3 separate regions of the Homo sapiens genome follow, and regions 2 and 3 are each linked to region 1. Evidence: fine-mapped QTL for protein levels in blood plasma. A gene starts in region 1. Each other region holds a variant in brackets. All regions are shown on one strand. Distances are between the middles of the regions.

Evidence for each region. PIP is the posterior inclusion probability: the model's chance that the variant is causal. The UK Biobank Pharma Proteomics Project read protein levels with antibody pairs (Olink). The fine-mapping took linkage between variants from a reference panel, not from the people measured, so its PIPs are less certain.
Region 2: its variant is fine-mapped to the plasma level of the CHRDL1 protein (UK Biobank, PIP 0.95).
Region 3: its variant is fine-mapped to the plasma level of the CHRDL1 protein (UK Biobank, PIP above 0.99).

Annotation. Positions count from the first base shown.
Region 1 is chrX:110,791,200-110,799,482 of GRCh38, reverse strand. It overlaps CHRDL1 (chordin like 1), which reads left to right and starts at 3,666. Exons shown (of 12, transcript NM_001143981.2): 1 at 3,666-3,739; 2 at 7,268-7,395. The coding sequence starts at 7,302.
Region 2 is chrX:110,558,013-110,566,295 of GRCh38, reverse strand. No RefSeq gene overlaps it. Among named protein-coding and RNA genes, the nearest start is that of CRIPTO3, 41 kb to the right of the region's middle. The variant G/T (reference allele first, on the strand shown) is at 3,786.
Region 3 is chrX:110,484,901-110,493,183 of GRCh38, reverse strand. No RefSeq gene overlaps it. Among named protein-coding and RNA genes, the nearest start is that of CRIPTO3, 32 kb to the left of the region's middle. The variant A/G (reference allele first, on the strand shown) is at 3,647.

The DNA of each region.
Region 1 (8,283 bases):
TATGAACATCAACCTAAACCTTATACCTTTTATAAAAATTAACTCAAAATAGATCATAATTAAATGTAAAACTTTATAACACTTTTAAAACAAAAATATAGAAGAAAATATTCAGGATCTAGAGCTAGGTAAAGGGTTCTTAAACTTAATGCCAAAACATGACCTATATGACAGAAATTTGATACATTGGACATAAAACATTAAAAAATTTTGTTTTGTGGAAGTTCAAGGGAAGAGGATGAAAAGAAAAGCTACAGACTGGGATAAAATATTTGTGATAAGATATACAGGTGTCAAATAAACAATGAAAAGATGGTAGATATCATTAGGTTTTAGGGAAATGCAAGTTAAAACCACAATGAGATATCACTATATACCTACCAGAATGGCTAAAATAAAAAATAATGACAACAAAAAATGCTGGCAAGAATGCAGATAAACTGGATCTCTCACACATTTCTGGTGGGAATATAAAATAGTACAGTTGCTCTAAAAACAGTATGACAGTCCTTACAAAACTAAACATGCATTTACCATACAACCCAGGAACTACATTGTTGGGTATTTATCCCAGAGAAATGAACACTTACGCTTATTCAAATACCTGTAGACAAATGTTCATAGCAGTTGTAACCGAAATCTAGACTCAACCCTCCAATAGATGAATGGTTTAAACAAATTGTGATATATCCCTACCATGGAATACCACTCAGCAATGAAAAGGAACAAACTATTGATACCAGGAACAACTTGAATGGGTCTCCAGAGAATTATATCAGGGTTGGGGGAGAAGAGAGAAGAGACTATCTCAAAAGGTTGCATACCGTATGATTCCACGTAACATTCTTAAATGACAAAATTATAGAGATGTAGGACAATTTAGTTTAGTAGTTGACAGGGAGTAGGGAGAGGAGGAAGGGAAAAGATGGGTGTGACTATTAAAGTGTAATACAGGGTATCCTTGTGGTAATGGCGCTGTTTTATATTTTTACTGTGGTGGTGGTCACATGAATATACACATGCGATAAAATTGCATAGAATTATATACACAGGCAAATGAGTGCATATAAAACTGGTGAAATCAGAGTAAGATGAATGGATTGTACCAATGTCAGTGTCCTGTTGTGACATTGTACTATATTTATGAATGATGTTATCATTGGGGAAAACTAGGTGAAGGGTATTTGAGATCTTTCTGAATTATTTCTTACAACTGCATGTAAATCTACCATTATCTTAAAATAAAACTTTTTAAAAAATGAGTATGAGATTATGCTCTCATCCCTATTTAATAAACAGAGAAAATAAAGCATGAAGGTAATCATCACTTAAGTTTCTATAAGACCTGGTAGGATGTCTAGATTAGGACTCACCCAAATGGGAGTTCTCAATTCAGAAATCAAGATTGGAACTAATACAAAATACAAGGATGACTAACATTTACACTAATGAAAAACCTGTCAGAGAATTCCAGCAGCCCCATATACAGTTGCCTGCAACTGCATAAGAGATCTTAAGCAAGTTCAATAGAATCAACTCAATAGAACCAATTGAGAATAATTGCTTGCTTTAAGCCACTAGGTTTTCGGATGGTTTGTTATGCAGTAATTAGGATTCTACACCAAGCAAGGGAGTGAGTGGTTGTAGCCAAATAGATGAACTTTTAAATCCCAGTGAGTCTATTTATTTTAAATGCTAGAATTTATGTTTGTCTCAGACTATCCCTTGAAACTCATTTTCCAGAATACTCTGTAAGCATGTTGGAAGTAATGATGGGAGTTGGGTAATGCACGCACAAGAGAAATTGAACAACCAGTCCTTGCCCTTGAAGAACTCACAATCTAGTAAGACAAAACATCACTGCATTAAACGGCATGAGAACAGTTATAAGGCAACAAATCAGCAAGTTCAAACCGATATACAACAGCACAAATTGAATGCATGTGGCAGTGTATGGCTACCCAGGCAGCAGGACGGAGCTAGACATTTTGGGCCCTGAAGGCAACATTACAGAAAGGGCCCCCTTTCCTTTGTTAACAGTGAAATAAACATCACCAGCAATGCAGGGGCTAGCTGGATACTATTAACACTTCTGAAAAAGCAAAAGGAGGTAACGTTCAGGGACAATTATTCTTGTTTTAATTTTTCTTTGTTTTCTGTTCCTGATAAGTGGTTTGTTTGTTTGTTTGTTTGTTTTTTTGACAAGCCACAGTTTCTCTGAACATCAATTTCCTCATCTACAGACTGGAGATAACAACCAGAGAGTAGTGGGTTGAAAGTCAGGGAATCTGGATTGGAATCTCAAATTTGTCATTTACTAGCTGTGTGACCTTAGATACATCATCCTCTTCCCCCAATTCAGTTTCCTCTTCTGTGAAATGATGAAGTTAAGCTGAATGGTTCAGAAGTTCCCCACCAACTCTAACACTTGAGACCTCAGGTAGTTCGGTTGGTTTTGAGGGTTTAAAAAGTAATGTTGATGTATGTGAAAACACTCCGTAAGCCATAAAGTACTATACAGATGTTAGGAATATAGATATTTATCTAGTTCATCTAGAAAAAAGCTCTGCGGTTCTTCTCCAAATTTAGGGGCTTAAAATTTTGTCTGTCGAGGCAGCACTTTCCTGGACCCTAGAAGTTTCTGACAATTCTTTGCAACTATCACTTGTTGAATAAACACAAATTTGGAGTAGGCAGGCCCACCAAGGCATCAGCAGTGCTACTGTGATTTCCAGGTTGAGCTCTTGGCCCAACTTAGAAGCTTAGGGACTCATTTAAAAAAAAAATGGTGGGTATAGTGTGTGGCACCAAGTTTTCTTCAAGACACTTAACAGTTAGAACAGGCCCTTTCCATGAGGCTTGGGAGCCCAGTTTGTAAGAGAAAGTGGATTTCTAATCCCTGACCCTACACACACCCATCTCCACCCCGCCTTTAAGGACACCAAACCAAAGCTTTGTCACTCTGTTAGCCACAGTGTGGATATGGGAAACGCCGTGAAATGATAAGCAGCATGCTAGGGCGTGATTTGCGAGGAGGGTTCATTCTGTGTCCAGGGCACCAGCTCAGTACCAGACCAGGTGCACACCTCGGAAAGGCCTTGGTGCCGGAGGAGAGCGGGTGTGGGCTTCCAGGCAGGGGAGTCAGAGGGTAGTCGGTATCTTCAGGGCGTGCGCGAGTGGTGGGGAGCTCCTAGGTGCATCCAGTGCAGAGGGGGAGGAGGGACCGGAGGAGCTGTGCGGTCCCTTTAAGACCCCAACGCTCGCCTAGCCAAAGGAGTGGGGGCTGCAGTGGGGGCGCTGTGTGATGGGAAAGTAGCCGGCTGAGTCTCACACTTTCTCCCGATTTTTAAACTTTCGGGCCGGGGGAGCAGAAATAAAGCCATTGTGCCGGGGTGGAGAAAGTGTGCGTGCTTGCAGCGGCTGCGTGCTTGCGGACTTCCCGCCAGCGCCGAGCGGCCGGCTTCTCGGGCCAAGTGGGGAGCGAGCGGGAGGGCGGGCAGGTGGCCCCGGGCCGCCGCGCCCGCGCCTTGGCTCTGCCCCCGGGAGCCGAGCAAGCCGCTGCTCCCTCGTGGTGTGAGGGCGGTGATGTTTTTCCTCCCACCCACTTTTGAGTTCCCCCTCCCCCCTCGCGCGCACTCTAGCTCTCGCCACAACCTGCCAGCCCCAGACCTCGGACGAGAGCGCCCCGGGGAGCTCGGAGCGCGTGCACGCGTGGCAGACGGAGAAGGCCAGTGCCCAGGTTAGTGAGCAGTGCCCGGCGCCCGCTTCCCTCACCTCCTTTTCCAGCCTTTGCACAGGTGGGTTGCCTTCTCTTGGCCGGAGCCGTCCCTGGAAGTTTCCCCAGGGTGCCCCAAATTCCCCTGCCACCCCAACCTGTTCTGTGCTCCAGCAGTTAGCAACCTGGATGGAGGTGGGGCCCAAGGCTTCTGACCAAAGCAAGTTGGGGGTCTCTGAATTCGAACTCACAGCTCGTCCCTCCCCACTCGGCCTGCATTTCTTTATGCTCTGGCGCTTTGAGAGGTCACTTAGGTACTCCACCCTGAGCTACCCAAGGGACTCTGCAGTCCCCTTAATCACTGCCTGTATTCCTGAGCCTGTTTTCTCATTTTGCTGATGAATACATGGTAAAGTTAATGTAGCAGGGTAGATGGGCGAAAGGCTCCCTATCCTATCCTCTGGCCATCTGCCTCATTTTTTGTCCCTGACTACGGGGGTCAGAATTTGAGACACTAGGCTCTGGAAGCAACGTGGTATATTGCCAGAACATAGGGCCCGGAAAGCCTGCTTTCCAGTCCCTCCCAGCCCTGCCACTAAAGTTATTTGAGTTCTCTGGGTCCCCCCAGTGCCCATTTTGAAGGTGGAGTTGTGTGGAATGAAATGAAATGATAGAAAGGTGTTTTGCAAGCCAAATGCGAGGCATTGTTTGTCAGTCATAAGCAGCAATGAAAGCATTTCCTCCAACAAGAGATACCCTGGGTTAAAACTGCCATTTTCAGTGGCAACACACCACCAGTTAACTGAACTTTTCTTGCTGGGTGGTAGAGTGGGGAGAGGATTTCAGCTGATGGACAAGGGCCTGGGACTCCAGTGTCTTTCTTATTGTTTGTCGGAAAGAAAATTGCTACCCTAGGGGCTGTCCCACAGATGATAGTCAATGTGAGATTACAAGGTCAGTCAAGCCTCTCAGGAGGATTAAAGAGACACTGTGGGGCGTGAAGAACTGGCTGACATGTGTTCATCCCTTAGCCTTCCTGTGGGGATGTCTCTTTGCTTCTGTTCTACCCAGGAGACCTGTTCTGAAAGTGGGCTCCTGACACTTGATGGCCCAGATTGCCTTGCAGTCACAGCTGGGCAAGGAGCAGTTGGTCCCTTTGCTTAACGCAGATGAACAATGTGAATGCTTGTTTCATGGAAGCACCTTAATAAATACCTTTCTTTTGGTACTTGATACATTTCTCTTTCTCTTGTAAAACACAGGAACTCTCCCATCCCACCTCCACTACCTGTGTTAGTTGCAGGGTTTTGTTTTTTTGTTGTTGTTGTTGCTTTCTTGTTGGGTCCTGGATCCCCTGAAGCATGTCAATGGCTACATGTCTAAGTAACCTGTAAAAGAGCCAGTGCAAGTTCAATGGCACAACAGCCTGTGTGAAGCAGACAGAGAGTTAATGCAGAAATAACTCCAGTTAACTGGGTCAAAGTATAATTTGAAAAATTAAGGACAGTTTGGCTCTTTGCAAGAATAAGAGTCGGCTAAGTTCGCTGAGCAATGCTTGCTAGTGTTTACTGCTGCAGTCCCAACACATGTTTTGAACCACCCCCTTCCCTAAAAGAAAAAGCTGAAGAGATAAAGAGAAATTGAACAGTGAGGAGATCTGGGGAGGGAACTCTTCTTGGTTCATATTTCTGCACAGAATACAAAGGCAGGACTTCAGGATCTTGTAAATCAAAAGTGAATATTTATAAAGCGATTCATTTTCTGATGTTCTCCATCACAGCCTGGGAGGCCACACAGATGACAGGAACGCCAAAGGAGATTAATTGCTCTCTAGTTACCAACTTTTTTATTTGCTCATAATATTAGTTGGGACCTAAGAAAGGCAAAAAAATCTATGAGCTGTTTTCTTGCCAACTTGAGTTATGAAGCAATGCTACAGTTCACCGAATCGCCCAACCATTATACAAGAAAAGCAGCCCTGTTGATTCTCGCATGGGGAGACCCTAAAACCATGGTTTCAGAAACACCCGTTGAAATCCATATATGAATGTGATAAATTGGATTTCAGTGGTTAAAAATCTTTCTCTTTTGGAGGCTTGGGGAATAAACTTATTAGAATAGGCTCAGGAAGAACCTCACTGAGGTGGGTAGCTGTGTTAAATTGTTAATGAAAATGATTTGTTTCGAATAAACGTGGTAGCCCTCAAGGGACAGTAACATTCTGAGTGATTGTAAGTGGGCCACAAACTCACAGAGGGGACCAAGACATCAGAACTCAGGTCTTTAGATGGGTAGGAACATGTCCTGAGAGAATTTGGTTCTTTAAGGAGCAGGGAGGAGGTAAAGAAGGAAGGCAGACGGTGCTGCAAATCTTGTTTGATAGCACAGATTACTCTATCATCAGTTCTTCCTTGGTTATGCATTCATAATTGAAACAGTGGATTTTGAATGACCCAGGCAACTTCATAGCATTTAAGTAGGAGCTGTAGCATCTACTTCAGAGCCCAAAGATATTCAACTCTCCAAAATGATCGTTTTGCATTCCTTCAAGTTCTTTATGTGCAATATTTAGGTTGGACTTTCTGGAAAGATCAATGAGTTCATTTCCCATTCAGATTGAATCTGGTGTTTTTAGAACATTTCAATATTTTCAGATCACCCATTGGAGGAATTTTGCAAACTCTAACATCTGTGGAAATGATCCGTGACTAGATGTGAGCTACAGCAAACTTTCTGTGTTCCAAGGTTCAAAAGGTTTAAGATTTCTACCCCTTATACTGGGAATGCCAATCTCATGTTTTGAAGAACTGTAGTTGTTTTAATGGTCTTTTGCATGGTGGTGCAAGGTGAACAAATTATCTATTTAATTTGCCCAATTTCCCCTAAAAATGGCCCATTTAAAATTTCCATTTTACAATGGACTTCTTGGGGGAGGAATATGTTGGAACCATTTTAAGCAGTAAAACTTTTCAGGTGTTTAATTGCATCCATTTGCTAATTACATCTATCTTTTGCAATATTAGTTGCCAAACCAAAGATCCTTGTAGATCTCATAGAGGACACAGGAGAAACTGATCAATTTGTACTTCATTCCAAAAGGATTAAAAGTAGTCTTGAAGCTAAGATTAGTTAACTTTCATTTCAGAAATTGCTTGGTCTCATGCTTGTTACTTTTACCTTGTTTGCTAAAATAACCGTTTTTGCAAGCTAAAGTTTCCCTTTTCTCCCAAAAAAATCTCTTGAGAAATCAACTTTAATTCCCTTAGAAAGGAAGATTTCAAAATTTATTTTCATTTTCCTATAACTTGCCTGTAAGGACTTAGCCTCAGCTTTGGATAGGAATGCACCCTCATTCACTTGAATTTTCACCCACAAGCCTTGCAAGACAGGAGAGGCAAGTCCTTTATCTTGTGCAGGCAGACAATACTTACACTTATGTAAATTCTAGGACATTTTTTTTTTATTCTAGCAGGTTAGAAGCCTGAGCATCAGTGACCTCTATCATTTCCAGAAGATCTGTGTTAAGTCTTTTTTCTGCTTTCTTCCCAACAGCTTGAAGGTTCTGTCACCTTTTGCAGTGGTCCAAATGAGAAAAAAGTGGAAAATGGGAGGCATGAAATACATCTTTTCGTTGTTGTTCTTTCTTTTGCTAGAAGGAGGCAAAACAGAGCAAGTAAAACGTAAGTGTCTTGCATTTGGAAAATAATACACTTTTTATAATTTCTTTGAAAATGTGGCTATAATCTGTAGCAATTATGATTTAGCCCAAATGTGGCCGTGCCATTATTCTAAGAGAAGAAAGTGAATGTTACTGGTTTATGCATGAATTGATAAAAGAATGAGAGCTTTGAATCAGGCCAACTAAATTTGGGGCTGTTTTTCTGATTATCATGTAGTCTTTGTCTCATAGAACATATGACACATTAGCTTATTTTCTCTTCCCTGTTCTAAACTATACAAATCTCATTACATTTTACGTAACTCTAGAAATATCTGACAGATGAGCTGGAATTTTCCCAAATTTCAGACTCTTCAGCAAAGGCTTTCAGTTTATGAAAAATAATGACACAGAAAAGAAAAAAAAAGAAAAAGAAAAGCAGGCTCTGCCTATTCCCTTATGCCGAAAAACGAGGAAGGACGAAACCTTCCTATGAACTGGGCTCAGATGAAAAATGTTTTGAGGAAATTGAGATTCCAGGGACCGTTAGCAAATTGGATGCCATTTATTGAAAAGAACATCCCCGCAAAGCCAGGGAATATTTCTAGAAAGTCAGCGATCCGTGTAATGGGCTAACACATTGGAGAAAGCAGAGAGTGGCAGGAAGTGGGGGCGGGGGGGATAATTAACCCTCCTTGCTGCCACGTTTAGGAGATTTATGAGTAACGGTCGACATATCCGTTCTTGCTGCCTTTGCACAATGTGGGTCTTACCTTCTTTGGGCCACTTGCAGCCATCTCTGAGGTAGATGCTTGCTCTAAATTTGAAGGAAAAGCCTAAGCTCTAGTTCCCCTTTTTGACAGCATCAAAAAAAGCACAAAATGGAATTGGTCCAAGAGGGGCATTCTCT
Region 2 (8,283 bases), 230 kb after region 1:
GTCTCAGGGTGGATAGAAACCAAGGCATAGTATATGCTACTGATTTGCAAAAGGACACAGGCTGTGTCTATAACCATATTGCATAGCCCAAAATCTCTGACTCTCCATCCAGAACATTGTTCTCCAGATACTTATTATTATTATTATCATTTTGCCTTTCCTAAATTCTTTACTCATGAGTGTGCTTTTTATAAGCAACAAATGAAACACAAGTGTTGATTTAACTGAAACATCACTTTTGAAAATGACTCAAAAATTCTTTCTCCCAAAGCAATCTACAGGTTCAATGCAACTCAATAATTTTACAGAAATAGAAAAATCACTCCTAAAATTTATGTAGAATCTCTAGAGACCTAGAATAGCCAAAACAACCTTGAAAAAGAGGAACAACATTGGAAGACTCAGACTTTCTGATTTCAAAGTTTACTACAGAGCTATAGTAATCAAAACAGTATGGTACTGGCATAAAGACAGACATATGGACATATTCATTGGAATAGAATCAAGAGGCCAAAAACAAACTCATGCATCTATGGTCAAATGATTTCAACAAGGGTGCCAAGACCACTCAATGGGAAAAGGACAGTCTCTTTAACAACTGGTGGTGGGAAAACTGGATATTCACATGCAAAAGAATAAAGATGGAGCTTATTTTATACTGCATATAAACATTAACTTAAAATGGATTAAAGATCTAAACATAAGAGCTAAAATTATACAACTCAGAAGAAAATATAGAGGAAAAGTTTCATGACATGGGATTTTGCAGTGACTTCTTGTGTATACATCAAAAGCACAGACAACAAAAGAAAAAAGAAAGAAATTGAACTTCCTCAAAACTAAAAATTTTGTGAATCAAAGGACACTATTAACACAGTGAAAAGTCATTCCATGGAATGAAAGAAAATATTTGTAAATCATATATCTGATAAGGGTTTAGTATCCAGGATATATAAGGAACTCCTACAATTCAACAACTAAGAAACAAGCAACCCAGTTCAAAAATGGGCAAATAATTTGAATTGGCATTTCTCCAAAAAAGATATACAGATGGCCAAAAAACACATGAAAAAAATGCTCAACATCACTAATCATTAGGGAAATGCAGATCAAAACCAAAATGAGACATCACCTCATACCCATTAATTTAGCTATTATAATTATTAAAACAAACAAACAAAAATCCAGATGATAACAAGTGTTGGGAAGGATATAGAGAAAGTGGAACCCTTGCACATGTTGGTGGGAGTGTAAAATGGTGTAGCCACTGTGGAAAACAGTACAGTGGTTCCTCAAAAAAAATGAAACATATAATTATTATATGATCGAGCAACTCCATTTCTAGGTACATATCCAAAAGAATTGAAAGCAGAGACTTTAATAGATATCTGTACATCATTACTCATAGGAGCATTATTCACAATAGCTAAAAGGTACAAATAACTCAAATGTCCATCAATCGACAAATAGATAATAAACAGTGGTACATACATACAAGGGAATATTGTTTAGCCTTAATAAGGCATGAGATTCTTTTTTGTGGTAATACTTTTCTTTATTGTGTTGAGGGCCAGAGGAATATGTTAAAATAGCACTCCTACGATTAAATTCAAATAATTCATTAATAAAAAGTCAGCAACAGAATTGTATGGAAAAGTAAAAGGGCCTCCCATGAGCTAATAAAGTGGTAAGATTTAACTCACCTTCTATAAATCACTAAATATTGCCATGTTGATTAACTGTGTATAATAAAACCATATTTATTTATTTATTTTTAAACTTTTAGGTTCCAGGGTACATGTGAAGGTTTGTTATCTGGGTAAATTGTGTGTCACAGGTGTTTGGTGTACGTATTATTTTGTCACCCAGGTAGGGAGCATAGTACCCGGTAGGTAGTTTATAGATCCTCACCCTCCTCCCACCCTCCACCCTCAAGTAGGCCCTAGTGTCTATTATTCTCTTCTTTGTGTCCATGTGTACTCAGTGTTTAGCACCCACTCATAAGTGAGAACATGTGGTATTTGGTTTTCTGTTCCTGTGTTGGTTTGCTTAGGATTATGGCCTCCAGTTCCTGCAAAGGACATAACTCCATTGTTTTCTATGGCTGCATAGTACTCCATGGTATATATATGCCATATTTTCTTTATCCAGTCCACCACTGATGGGTACCTAGGTTGATTCCATGTCTTTGCTATTGTGAATAGTGCTGTGATGAACATATGTGTGCATGTATCTTTTTGACAGAATGATTTATATTCCTTTGGGTATATACCCAATGATGGGATTGCTGGGTTGAATGGCAATTCTGTGGAATGAAATCCTGATACATGCTACAACATGGGTGAACCTTGAAAACATTATGCTAAGTGAAATAAGCCAAATGAAATGGCACAAATATATGATTCCATTTATATGAGGTACTGAGAATAGTCAAACTCATAGAGACAGAAAGTAGAATTATGGCTGTCAGGAGTCAAGAGTAGGGGAAAGTGGGGAGTTATTGTTTGACAGGTACAGAGATTCAATTTGGGATGATGAAAATGTTCTGGTGATGGATGGCAGTGATGGTTGCATAACAATGTGTATGTACTTAATGCCGCTGAACTGTACACTTTAAAATAATTACAATGGTAAATTTTATATTATGTATATTTTACCACAATAAAAATCTTAAAAAATGCTTTCTGTCTGCAAAAATGTTTCCCAGCCTGCCACATTTGCATTGGCCTCATCCCAATTTCCTGCTGCCAGGATTTAGAAGCCTCCCTCCAATTCTTCCAATCCTGGCCCAAGTCAGCTAAATTGCCATGACACCAAGTCACTGGAAATAATTTCTTTGTAGGAATAAGTTTCCCAGAGATTGGAATGTGCCTGATGATGCCACCATGAATCAGACAGAGCTTTGTAGTCTCTCTGCAGGCCAAAGAATTCCTGAATGTCCCTGGAAAATCTCCCTTTCTCCCCACATCCATTTCATACCCCTTGAAAATATTTATTATTACCACTTATATGGATTTTAGAATTTACAAAGCACCTTCTCACATAAACTTTTACATTTGATAACTTTAATAACACTAATAAAGATGAATGTTTTGTTACTCCATTTTACAGATGAGGAAACTGAGGCTCCAGTTCTCAATATGACTTGTCCAGGTTATCATAGTCACTAAGCAGTAAAACTGGGACTTCTTGAGCCCCGGCCTCTATTCTGACATCCCTTCCTATTTGGTTATCTCATAGGCATGTGGCAATCAACATGTTCAAAATTGAGCATATCACATCAGCTCTTCCCAACTTGCTTCTCCTGTGCTTCTCATCTTAGTGAATGACACAGATATTCTATCCAAGGCAGAAACCTTGGAGTTATTATTGATGCCCTCCTCTCCTTCATTCCCCACAGCCAATCCTCTCATCAAGTCTGTGAATTCTATTTTGTAAATCTTCTTTTTCTTAATTCATTCACTTCTCTCCATCCTCATTGCCACCTCCCTAGTCCAATCCACCATTTTCTCTCATCAGAACTCCTGCAGTAGCTTCCTAAGTCATCTTGTCTCTTTATAAGGCATTTTCATGGAATATCCAGAGCAATCTTTCTAAAATCATGTCTGATCATATTTCTTTTGGGATTTTTGTTCATTTGTGTTGTTGGTTGTAAAGCAGTTTTATAAACATTAATGCTTTAAACACCTATATACATATAAAATACACAGTCATACAGTCATGCATCACTTAATGACAGGGATATGTTCAGAGAAATGTGTCATTAGGTGATTTAGTTTTTCTGT[G/T]AACATCATAGAGTGTACTTACACAACCCTGGATGGTATATCCTACTACACACCTAAGCTCTATGGTATAAACTATTACTCCTAGGCTACAAACCTGTACAGCATATCGTCATATTGAATACTGTAGGTAACTGTAACAAAGTTGTAAGTATTTGTGTAGCTAAACATAGAAAAGGCAGAGTAAAAATGTGGTATAAAAGCTAAAAAATAGTATGCCTATATAAAAGAAAGGGGGAATTTTAAATGTTACATGGGAGTTGCAATTGAAGAAACAGTGGCCAAGAAAGGCTGCACTGGCTTGAGGGTCATATAACTAATGTAGTCACATTAAAATATTAATATACATATATCCTATGACCCAACAATGCTGCTCTTGAGTATATTATCCAGGAAAATCCTCACATAAGACCATGGGGAGACATGTGTGAGGATGTTCATGAGAGTGCTATTTGTGGTGGCCGAAGGTAGCAGAATCCCAGTGGGGAGCACTTGACTGAGCCAGTGGATAGGTAAAATGTGGTAGAGGCATGCCATGAAGTATTATGCAATGCTTATAATAACAGATTAAGTGTATGCACAGCAACATGGATTGATGTAGAAACATGATGTTGAATGAAAAAACTAACAAATGGGGGTTGGGGGGTGGAGGTGCGGGGCCAAGATGGCCAACTAGAAGAAGCAGCGATTGTAGGCTCCCATTGAAAAGAACCGAAACAGTGTGCAAATTCCCCACTGGCAACCTAGGTATCCAGGTTCTGTCATCAGGCCTGACTAGGTGGCTCGTGTGACCCACAGAGAGGAAAGAAGACCAGTGTGGTGTGGCAGCCCACCTGAGAGCCACACGGGGCAGGGGAGCCCCCAGTCCCCCGCCAAGGGAGGCGGTGAGAGAGCATGCTACCCAGTCTGGGAAACCGTGCTTTTTCCACAGAACTGTGCAACCCACAGATCAGAAGATCCCACTCGTGAGCGCATGCCACCAGGGCCTAGGGTCCCAACCATGGAGCTGCGCAGATTCTCAACAGCCACTCAGCTACAATCTGCCTAAGCCTGCTGAGTTCCTTGGTGGGGGGCAGCATCACCACAGCTGTGGCTGCCTGCTGTCTAAACCATCTGAGCTCCTTGGGGGAGGGTTGGCAGCCAACGCTGGGACTGCTAGCTGCCTAACACACTAAGCTTCCAGGGCAGGGGAAGGGTGGCAGCCATCTCTATGGCTCCAGGCCGTGCTTTTCCCCTGCAAAAGCCAAGGAGGCTGGACTGCTTGGTCCCAAGAGATATTCCCTGCAGCCCAACACACTGGCTGTGGCAGATTGCCACCAGAATGCTTCCTCAGGCCTGACCCTGACTCATCCTTCCTCACTGGGTGGGGCCTCCCTGCAGGAACTCCAACAACTCCAGCTAGGGGCTTAGGGACAGAACTCTGATCTCCCTGGGCCTGAGACCCTAGGGGGAGAGGATGGCCATAGTCTCCACAGACCAGCAGACTTAGTCTTTCCTCCTGCTAGTTCTGAGGAATCTGGGCAGCCCAGACTAGTGGGTTTCCCCCTAACATGGCACACCCCCTGCACCATGAGATAGTCAAAGTGCTTCATTAAATGGGTCCTGCACCCAGTGCCATTCAATTGGGGGAGATCCTTCAACAGGAGCTGTCAGACACCCTATACAGTGGTGTTCCTACTGGCATCAGGTTGGTGCCCCTCAAGGTCAGAGATCCCGGAGGAAGGAGAAGGCACCCATCTTTGCTGTTCTCCAGCCTCCTCAAATGGCATCTTCAGGCATGACAGCGAACCAGATGAAGAAGGCCTGAAGTGAACCCCCAGCAAACTGCAGCAGCCCTACAGAAGAGGGACCTGACCATTTAAAGAAAAACGAACAAACAAACAAGCAGAAAGCAACAACAGCATAAACAAAAAAAGTCCCCACAAAAATCCCAACCAAGGGTCAACAGCCTCAAAGATCAAAACTAGACAAACTCATGAAGATGAGAAAGAATAAACGAAAAAATGCTGAAAACCCAAAAGACCAGAGTGCCTCTTCTCCAAATAATCACGCAGAACTGGATGGAGGGTGAGATGGATGAATTGAAAGAAGTAGGCTTCAGAAGGTGTGTAATAACAAACTCCACTGAGCTAAAGGAGCATGTTCTAATCCAATGCAAAGAAGCTCAGAACCTTGATAAAAGGTTATAGGAGCTGCTAACTAGATTAACCAGTTTAGAGGGAAACATAAATGGCTTGATGGAGCTGAAAAACACAGCATGAGAACTTCGTGAAGCATACACAAATATCAATAGCCAAACTGACCAAGCGGAAGAAAATTGGAGTTTCAAGACCATCTTGCTGAAATAAGGCATTCAGACAAGATTAGAGAAAAAAGAATGAAAAGGAATGAACTAAAACTCTGAGAAATATGGGACAGTGTAAAAACACCAAACTTATGATTGATTGGAGTACCTGAAAGAGACAGGGAGAATGGAACCAAGTTGGAAATCACACTTCAGGATATTATCCAGGAGAACTTCCCCAACCTAGCAAGACAGACCAACATTCAAATTCAAGAAATACAGAGAACACCACTAAGATACTCCGTGAGAAGATCAACCCAAAGAAACATAATTATCAGATTCTCCAAGTTGAAATGAAGGAAAAAATGTTAAGGGCAGCCAGAGAGAAAGGCCAAGTCATTTACAAAGGGAATCCCATCAGACTAACAGTGGACCTCTCATCAAAAACCCTATAAGCCAGAAGAGAGTGGGGGCCAATATTCAACATTCTTAAAGAAAAGAATTTTCAACCTGGAATTTCATAACCAGCCAAACTAAGCTTCATAAATGAAGGAGAAATAAAATCCTTTACAGACAAGCAAATGCTGAGGGATTTTGTCACCACCAGGCCTACCTGGCAAGAGCTCCTGAAGGAATCACTAAATATGGAAAGGAAAACCTGGTACCAGCCACTGCAAAAACACACCAAAATATAAAGACCAATGACACTATGAAGAAACTGCATCAACTAGTGTGCAAAATAACCAGCTAGCATCAGGATGATGGGATCAAATTCCACATAACATGAACCTTAAATATAAATGGGCTAAATGTCCCAATTAAAAGACACAGACTGGCAAATTGGATAAAGAGTGAAGACCCATTGGTGTGCTGTATTCAGGAGTCCCATCTCATGTGCAAAGAAACACATAGGCTCAAAATAAAGGGATGGAGAAAAAAATTTACCAAGCAAATGGAAAGTGAAAAAAAAAATGCAGAGGTTGCAATCCTAGTCTCTGATAAAACAGAGTTTAAACCAATAAAGATAAAAAAAAGACAAAGAAGGGCATTACATAATGCTAAAGATATCAATTCAACAAGAAGAGCTAACTATCATAAATATATATGCACCCAATATAGGAGCACCCAGATTCATAAAAACAAGTTCTTAGAGACCTACAGAGAGACTTAGACTCCCACACAATAATAGTGGGAGACTGTAACACCCTACTCTCAATATTAGACGGATCAATGAGATGGAAAATTAACAAGGATATTCAGGACTTGAACTCAGCTCTGGGCCAAGGGGACCTAATAGACATCTACAGAACTCTCCACCCCAAATTGAAGAGAGGAGTGCCTCTGCCCAGCCGCCCCACCATCTGGGATGTGAGGGAGCGCCTCTGCCCTTCCCCTCCCCCCCACACTGTCTGGGAAGTGAGAAGAACCTCTGCCCAGCCGCCCCACCATCTGGGAAGTGAGGAGCGTTTCTGCCCAGCTGCAGCCCCGTCTGGGAAGTGAGTAGTGCCTCTGCCGGGCTGCCACCCCATCTAGGAAGTGAGGTGCCCCTCTTCCCGGCGGCCGCCCCATCTGGAATGTGAGGAGGGCCTCTGCCCGCCGCCGCCCCATCTGGGATGTGAGGAGCATCTCTGCCCAGCTGCCCACCGTGCAGGAAGTGAGAAGCGCCTCTGCCCAGCTGCCCAGTGTCTGGGAAGTGAGGAGAGCCTCTGCCCGGCCACTGCCCCATCTAGCAAGTGAAGAGCATCTCTGCCCAGCCACCACCCCATCTGGGAAGTGAGGAGCGCCTCTGCCCCGCCACCCAACTGACTGCGAAGTGAGTAGTGTCTCTGCCCAGCCACCTCTTCTGGGAAGTGAGGAGCACCTCTGCCCAGCCGCCCAGCTGACTGGGGAGTGAGGAGCGCCTGTGCCCGCCCGCCACACCCTCTGGGAATTGAAGAGCACCTCTGCCCAGCTGCCAACCATCTGGGAAGTGAGGAGCGCCTCTGCCTGGATGCCCCGTCTGGGAAGTGAGGAGCGCCTCTGCCCGGCCGCCCCACCATCTGGGATGTGAGGAACTCTGCTGCCCTGCTGCCCAGCTTCCCACTGTCTGGGAAGTGAGGAGCACCTCTGCCCAGCTTCCACCCTGTCTGGGAATTGAGGAGCATCTCTGACCGGCTGCCACCCCATCTGGGAAGTGAGGAGCGCCTCTGCCCAGCTGCCCACTGTCTGGAAAGTGAG
Region 3 (8,283 bases), 310 kb after region 1:
AGCAATTAAGCAAGGAAGAAAGAGAGAAAGAAAGAAAGAAAGAGAGAGAGAGAGAGAGAGAGAGAAAGAAAGAAAAGAAAGGAAGGAAGGAAGGAAGGAAGGAAGGAAGGAAGGAAGGAAGAAAGAAAGAAAGAAAGAAAGAAAGAAAGAAAGAAAGAAAGAAAGAAAGAAAGAAAGAAAGAAAGAAAAGAAAGAAAGAAAGAAAAGAAAGAAAGAAAGAGAGAAAAGAAAGAAAGAAAGAGCAAGAAAGAGAGAAAGCAAGAAAGAAAGAAGAAAAGAAAAGGGAGAAATGAAAGCTATCCAAATTGAAAAGAGAAAAATAAAATTATTTTTTTCTAAAATAACATGATCTTATGTGCAGAAAATACTAAAGATTTCACAAGGAAACTGTTAGAACTAATAAACTAATTCAACAAAGTTGCAGGACACAAAATCAACACAGAAAAATTAGTTGCTTTAACAATGAACGATTAGAAAAGAAAAGATTAGAAAAGAAAATTAAGAAAACAATTCATTTACAATTGCATCAAAAAGAATAAAATACTTAGGAATAAACTTAACCAAAGAGGTGAAACACTTGTTCAGTGAAAACTGCAAAATATTGCTGAAAAATAATTTTTAAAACCCCCAAAATCGGAAAGACATCCCATCCCATGGTCACAATTGGAAGACTCAATATCGTTAAGATATCAGGGGGATTAAGATGGCGGATAGGAGGCAGGACTAGCTTGCAGCCCCCACCTGGACAGAGAGAGCAGTGTGTGCAGACTAACATCATTAACTTTTGCTCCAAGAACTACCACAGGAACATACCAGAAAAGCCGAGATAATCCACAGACCCTTTTAAGGACAGGATCACCGCTGCAGGCTCCCTGAGATGCCAAAAACCTGTAAATCTGCTTGCTTTCTCAGCGGGCAGGCTGGTGGTCTGGGGCAAGTTCTCAGCCCTGGTCACCAGCTGCCTGGAAATAAACTCAGTGCTGTTGAGGGGGCACAGTAGGAGTGAGACTGGACTTTAGGACTGTGAGCTGCATGGGAGTGGGATGAGGACTGTGACTGCCGGCTTTCCCCCACTTCCCTGGCAACCTGTATGACTCGGCAGAGACAGCCATAATCCCCCTGGGAGCATAACTCCATTGGATTAGGAAACTCACCCCCATTCTCCACAGCAGCTGCAGGAAGCCCAGCCCCACAGCAGCTGCAGGAAGCCCAGCCCAAAGAGAGGCTGAGTTCAGACATGCCTATCCCTGCCCCCACCTGGTGGTCTTTCTATACCTGCCCTGGTAGCCAAAGACAAAAGTCATAATCTCTTGGGAGCTCTTTGACCCTGCCCACCACCTGAGAAACCTGAATGCTTAACCAGGTATCCCTAGGGCAAGTTTGCCTCCTCCCTATAGGACCACAACTGATGCACTCTTGAAATGCCTACCTCCTGGCTGGAGGCCAACCTACACAAAACCAGTGCACTGAACAAAAACACAAGCAAGGACCCTCACAGAGTCCACTTCACTCCCCTGCTACCTCCAGTGGAGCAGGTGCTGGTATCCATGGCTGCAAGACCTGAAGATGGATCACATCACAGGACTCTTTGCAGACACTCCCCAGTACCAGCCTGGAGCCCAGGAGCTCTGCTGGGTGGCTAGACCCAGAAGAGCAAAACAATCACTACAGTTCAGCTCTCAGGAAGCCACATCCCTAGGGGAAGGGGGTTAGCACTACATCAATGGAGCACCCCGTGGGACAAAAGAATCTGAATAGCACCCCTTGAATCCTAGCTCTTCCCTCTGACATAGTCTACCCAAATGAAAAGGAACCAGAAAAACAATTCTGGTAATATAACAAAACGAGATTCTTTAAACCGCCCCCTCCAACCCAAAAGATCATATCAGCTCACCAGCAATGGACCCAAACCAAGACAAAATCTCTGAATTGCCAGAAAAAGAAATCAGAAGGTTGATTATTAAGCTAATCTAGGAGGCACCAGAGAAACGTAAAGTCCAACCTAAAGAAATAAAAAATATGATACAGAATATGAAAGGAAAATTATTCAGTGAAGTAGGTGGCATAAATAAAACACAATCACAACTTCTGGAAATCAAGGACACACTTAGAGAAATGCAAAATGCACTGGAAAGTCTCAGCAATAGAATGGAACAAGCAGAAGAAAAACTTCAGAGCTCAAAGACAAGGCTTTTGAATTAACCCAATCCATCAAAGATGAAGAGAAAAGAATTTTTTAAAAAGAATGAAACCTTAAAGAAGTTTGGGACTATCTTAAATATCCAAAATTAAGAATAATTGGTGTTCCCAAAGAAGAAGAGAAATATAAAAGTTTGAAAAACATATTTGAGGGAATAATTGAGGAAAACTTCCCCAGCCTTGCTAGAGATCTAGACATCCAAATACAAGAAGTTCAAAGAACACCTGAGAAATTAATCACAAAAAGATCATCACCTAGGCACACCTAGGCACATCAGGTTATCTAAAGTCAAGACAAAGGAAAGAATCTTAAGGGCTGTGAGGCAAAAGCATCACATAACCTATAAAGGAAAACCTATCAGATTAACAGATTTCTCAGCAGAAACCATTCAAGCTAGAAAAGATTGGGGTCCTGTTTTTAGCCTCCTTAAACAAAACAACTATCAGCCAAGAATTCTGTATCCAGCGAAACTAAGCTTCATAAATGAAGGAAAGATAGTCTTTTCCAGACAAACAAATGCTGAGCAAATTCACCAATACCAGGCCAGCACTACAAGAACTGCTAAAAGGAGCTCTAAATCTTGAAAGAATTCCTCGAAATACACCAAAATAGAACCTCCTTAAAGCATAAATCTCACAGGACCTATAAAACAAAAACAATGAAAAAAAACACCAAAATTGGAAAGATATCCCATCCCATCCCATCCCATGTTCACAATTGGAAGACTCAATATCATTAAGATATCAGAGGGGATTAAGATGGCAGATAGGAGGCAGGACTAGCTGAAAAAAAAAAAAACCACCAAGGTATTCAGGCAATGACTAACATGATGAATAGAATAGTACCTCACATCTCAATACTAACATTGAGGCTCATGCCTGTAATCCCAGAACTTTGGGAGGCCGAGGCAGGCAGATCACCTGAAGTCAAGAGTTCAAGATCAGCCTGGCCAACATGGTGAAACCCCCGTCTCTAATAAAAATACAAAAAAAATTAGCCTGGTATGGTGGCACGTGCCTGTAGTCCCAGCTACTTGGGAGGCTGAGGCACGAGAATTGTTTGAACCCGGGTGGCAGAGGTTGGCAGTGAGCCAAGATTACACCACTGCACTCCAACCTGGGCAACAGAGCAAGACTCCATCTCAATAAAAAAAAAGTAATACTAACATTGAATATAAACAGCCTAAATGCTTCACTTTAAAAATACAGATTGGCAGAATGGGTAAGAATTCACCAACCAAGTTTCTACTGTCTTCAGGAGACTCACCTAACACATAAGAACTCATATAAACTTAAGGTAAAGGGGACACCAAAAGCGAGCAGGAGTAGCTATTCTTACATCAGACAAAACAAACTTTAAAGCAATGGCAGTTTAAAAAGACAAAGAGGGGCATTATATAATGATAAAAGGACTATTCCAACAGGAAAATATCACAGTTCTAAATAT[A/G]TATGCACCTAACGCTGGAGCTCCCGAATTTATAAAACAATTACCACTAGACCTAAGAAATGAAATTGATGACAACACAATAATAGTGGGGGACTTCAATACTCCACTGACAGCACTAGACAGGTTATCAAGACATAAAGTAAACAAAGAAACTATGGATTTAAAATATACCCTAGAACAAATTGACTTAACAGATATTTACAGAACATTCTATCCAACAACTGCAAAATATACATTCTATTCATCAGCACATGGAACATTCTCCAAGATAGACCATATGATAGGCCACAAAACAAGTCTCAGTAAATTTAAGAAAATCAAAATTATATCAAATACTCAGACCACGGTGGAATAAAATTTGATATCAACTCCAGAAGGAAGCCTCAAAACCATGCAAATACATGGAAATTAAGTAACCTGCTCCTGAATGATCACTGGGTCAACAATAAAATCAAGATGGAAATTTAAAAAATTCTTTGAACTGAATGATAATAGTGACACAACGTATCAAAACTCTGGGATACAGCAAAAGCGGTGCTAAAAGTGTAGTTTATAGCATTAAACGCCTTCATCAAAAAGTCTGAAAGCACAAATAGACAATCTAAGGTCATATCTCATGGAACTGGAGAAACAAGAACAATCCAAACTCAAACCCAGCGGAAGAAAAGAAATAACAAAGATCAGAGCAGAACTAAATGAAATTGAAACAAAAAAATACAAAAGATAAATGAAACAAAAAGATGGTTCTTTGAAAAGATGAACAAAATTGATGGACCATTAGCGAGATTAACCAAGAAAAGAAGATTGAAGATCCACATAAACTGGATTAGAAATGAAACAGGAGATATTACAACTGATACCACAGAAATACAGAAGATTATTCGAGGCTACTGTGAACACCTGGATGCTCATAAACTAGAAAACCTAGAGGAGATGGATAAACTCCTGGAAATATACAATCTTCCTAGATTAATCCAGGAAGATATAGAATCTCTGAACAGACCAATAACAAGCAACAAGATTGAAATGGTAATTTAAAAATTGCCAACAACAAAAAGTCCAGGACCAGATGGATTTACAGCTGAATTCTATCAGACATTCAAATAAGTATTGATACCAATCTTATTGACAACTATTCTAAAAGATAGAGAAATAGGGAATCCTCCCTAAATCATTCTATGAAGCCAGTATCACCCTAACACCAAAACCAGGGGAGGATGTGACAAAAAAAGGAAACTACAGACCAATATACCTGACGAATAAAGATGCAAAAATGCACAACAAAATACTAGTGAGCCGAGTCCAACAGCATATCAAAAAGATAACCCGCCATCATCAAGTGGGTTTCATACCAGGGATGCAGGGATGATTTAACATATGTAAGTCAATAAATGTGATACATCACATAAGCAGAATTAAAAACAAAAATCACATGATCATTCCATAGACACAGAAAAGACATTTGACAAAATCCAGCATCCCTTTATGATGAAAACAGTCAGCAAAATTAGCATAGAAGGGACTTATCTTAAGGTAATAAAAGCCATCTATGACAAACCCACAGCCAACATTATACTGAATGGGAAAAAGTTGAAAGAATTGCCCCTGAGAAATGAAGCAAGACAAGGATGCCCACTTTCACCACTTCCATTCAAAATAGTACTGTAAGTCCTAACCAGAGCAGTCAGACAACAGAAAGAAATAAAGGCCATCCAAATCAGTAAAGAGGAAGTCAAACTGTCACTGTTTGCTGATGACATGATTGTATACCTAGAAAACCCTAAAGACTCATCCAAAAAGCTCCTAGAGCTGGTCAATGAATTCAGCAAAGTTTCAGGATACAAAGTTAATGTACACAAATCAGTAGCTCTACTACACACCAACAGCGACCAAGCTGAGAATCAAGCAAGAAGTCAACCCCTTTCCCAATAGTTGCAAAAAGAAAAGAAAATACTTAGGAATATGCCTAACCAAGGAGGTGAAAGATCTCTACAAGGAAAACTAAAAAACTCTGCTGAAAGAAATCATGGACGACGCAAACAAATGGAAACACATCCCATGGATGAGTAGAATCAATATTGTGAAAATGACTATACTGCCAAAAGCAATATACAAATTCAATGCAGTTCCCATCAAAATACCATCATTCTTCACAGAACTAGAAGAAGCAATCCTAAAATTCATATGGAACCAAAAAAGAGCCTGCATACCTGAAGCAAGACTAAGCAAAGGAACAAATCGAGAGGTATCACATTACCCAACTTCAAACTATATTATAAGGCCATAGTCACCAAAACAGCATAGTACTGGTATAAAAATAGGCACATAGCCCAATGGAACATAATACAGAACCCAGAAACAAAGCTAAATACTTACAGCCAACTGATCTTCGACAAAGCAAACAAAAACATGAAGTGGGGAAAGGACACTCTATTCAACAAATGGTACTGGGATAACTGGCAAGCCACATGTAGGAGAATGAAACTGGATCATCCTCTCTTACTTTATAGAAAAATCAACCCAAGATGGATCAAAGACTCAAATATAAGACCTGAAACCATACCAGAAGATAACATCAGCAAAACCCTTCTAGACATTCGCTTAGACAAAGACTTCATGACCAAGAACCCAAAAGCAAATGCAACAAAAACGAAGATAAATAGATGGGACTCGATTAAACTAAAAAGTTTCTGCACAGCAAAATAAATAATCAACAGAGTTAACAGACAGCCCACAGAATGGGAGAAAATCTTCACAATCTACATATCCAACAAAGGACTAATATCCAGAATCTACAAAGAACTCAAACAAATCAGCAAAAACAAAACAAATCAAAAATTCCAATTAAAAAATAGTCTAAGGACATGGATAGCCAATTCTCAAAAGAAGATATACAAATGGTCAACATGCATATGGGAAAATGCTCAACTAATTATCAGGGAAATGCAAATCAAAACCACAATGCCACACCACCTCCCTCCTGCAAGAATGGCCATAATCAAAAAAATAAAAAAATAATAGATGTTGGTGTGGATGTGGTGAAAAGGGAACACTTTTATACTGTTCGTGGGAAGGTAAACTAGTACAAGCACTATGGAAAACAATGTGGAGATTCCTTAAAGAACTAAAAGTAGATCTACCATTTAATCCAGCAATCCCACTACTAGGTATCCACCCAGAAGAAAATAAGTCATTGTACGAAAAACATACTTGCACATGCCTGTAATCCCAACACTTTTGGGAGGCCATGGCAGGAGGATTACCTGAGGTTAGGAGCTCGAGACCAGCCTGGCCAACATGGTGAAACCCCATCTCTACTAATAATACAAAAATTCACCGTGTATGGTGGTGTGTGCCTGTAATCCCAGCTATTCAGGAGGCTGAGGCAAAAGAATCTCTTGAACCTGGGATGCAGGGAAGTGGAGGTTGCAGTGAGCCAACATTGCGCCACTGCACTCCACCCTGGGCAAAAGAGCGAGACTCTGTCTCAAAAAAAAAAAAAAAAGATATTAATGCTTCCCAAAGCAACCTATACATTCAATGCCATCCCTATAAATATCCCAAGTATTTTTTTTTGCGGAAATAGAAAAACCCATTCTAAAATTTTTATATGGTATCTCAAGAAACCCTGAATAGTCAAGACAATCTTGAAAAAGAAGAACAAAGTTGGAGGTCTCATATTTCCTGATTTAAAAACTTACTACAAAGCTATAATAATAAAAATAATGTGGTATTGGAACAAAGACAGACATATAGACCAGTGGAATAAAATAGAGTCCCCAGAAATAAGTCCTAGAATATATGATCAAAAGATTTTCTAGAAAAGTGCCAGGATCATTCAATGGGGGAAAGGAAAGTTTCTTCAACAAATGGTATTGGAAATTTGGATATCTACATATGAAAGAACAAAGTTAGACACTTACCTTACAAAAGTTAGAAGAAAACACAGGGGAAAAGCTACATGACATTGGATTGGTAATGATTTATTGGCTATGACACCAAAAACACAGGCAACAAAACAAAAAATTAATAAATCAGACTTTATTAAAATTAAAAACGTTTGTGCCTCAAATGTCATTATCAACAGAATGAAAACACAAACCAGTGAATGGAAGAAAATATTTGCAAATCACATGTCTGATAAGAAGTTAATATCCAGAATATGTAAAGAAACCTGAAATTCAACAACAACAAAAGACAACCCAATTTAAAACTAGGCAAAGGATTTGAATAGATATTTCTCCAAAGAAGTTATACAGATGGTCAGTGAACCATGAAAATATACTCAACACCAGTAATTATTAGAAAATTGTAAATTGAAATGATATGAAGGTACCATTTCATATACATTAGGATGGCTATTTAAAAAAAAAAAAGAAAATAACAAGTGTTGGTAATGATGTGAAAAAATTGAAATCCTTGTGCATTGCTGGTGGGAATGTAGAATGGTGTATCCACTATGGAAACCAGCATGGTGTTTCCTCAAAAAGTTAAACATAGAATTACCATATGATTCAGCAATTCCACTTCTGGATATATCTCCAAAATAATTAAAAGCATGGACTAATAAGATATTTGTACACCAATATTTATAGAAGCATTGTATGATTTCACTTATATGAGGGATCTAGAGGATT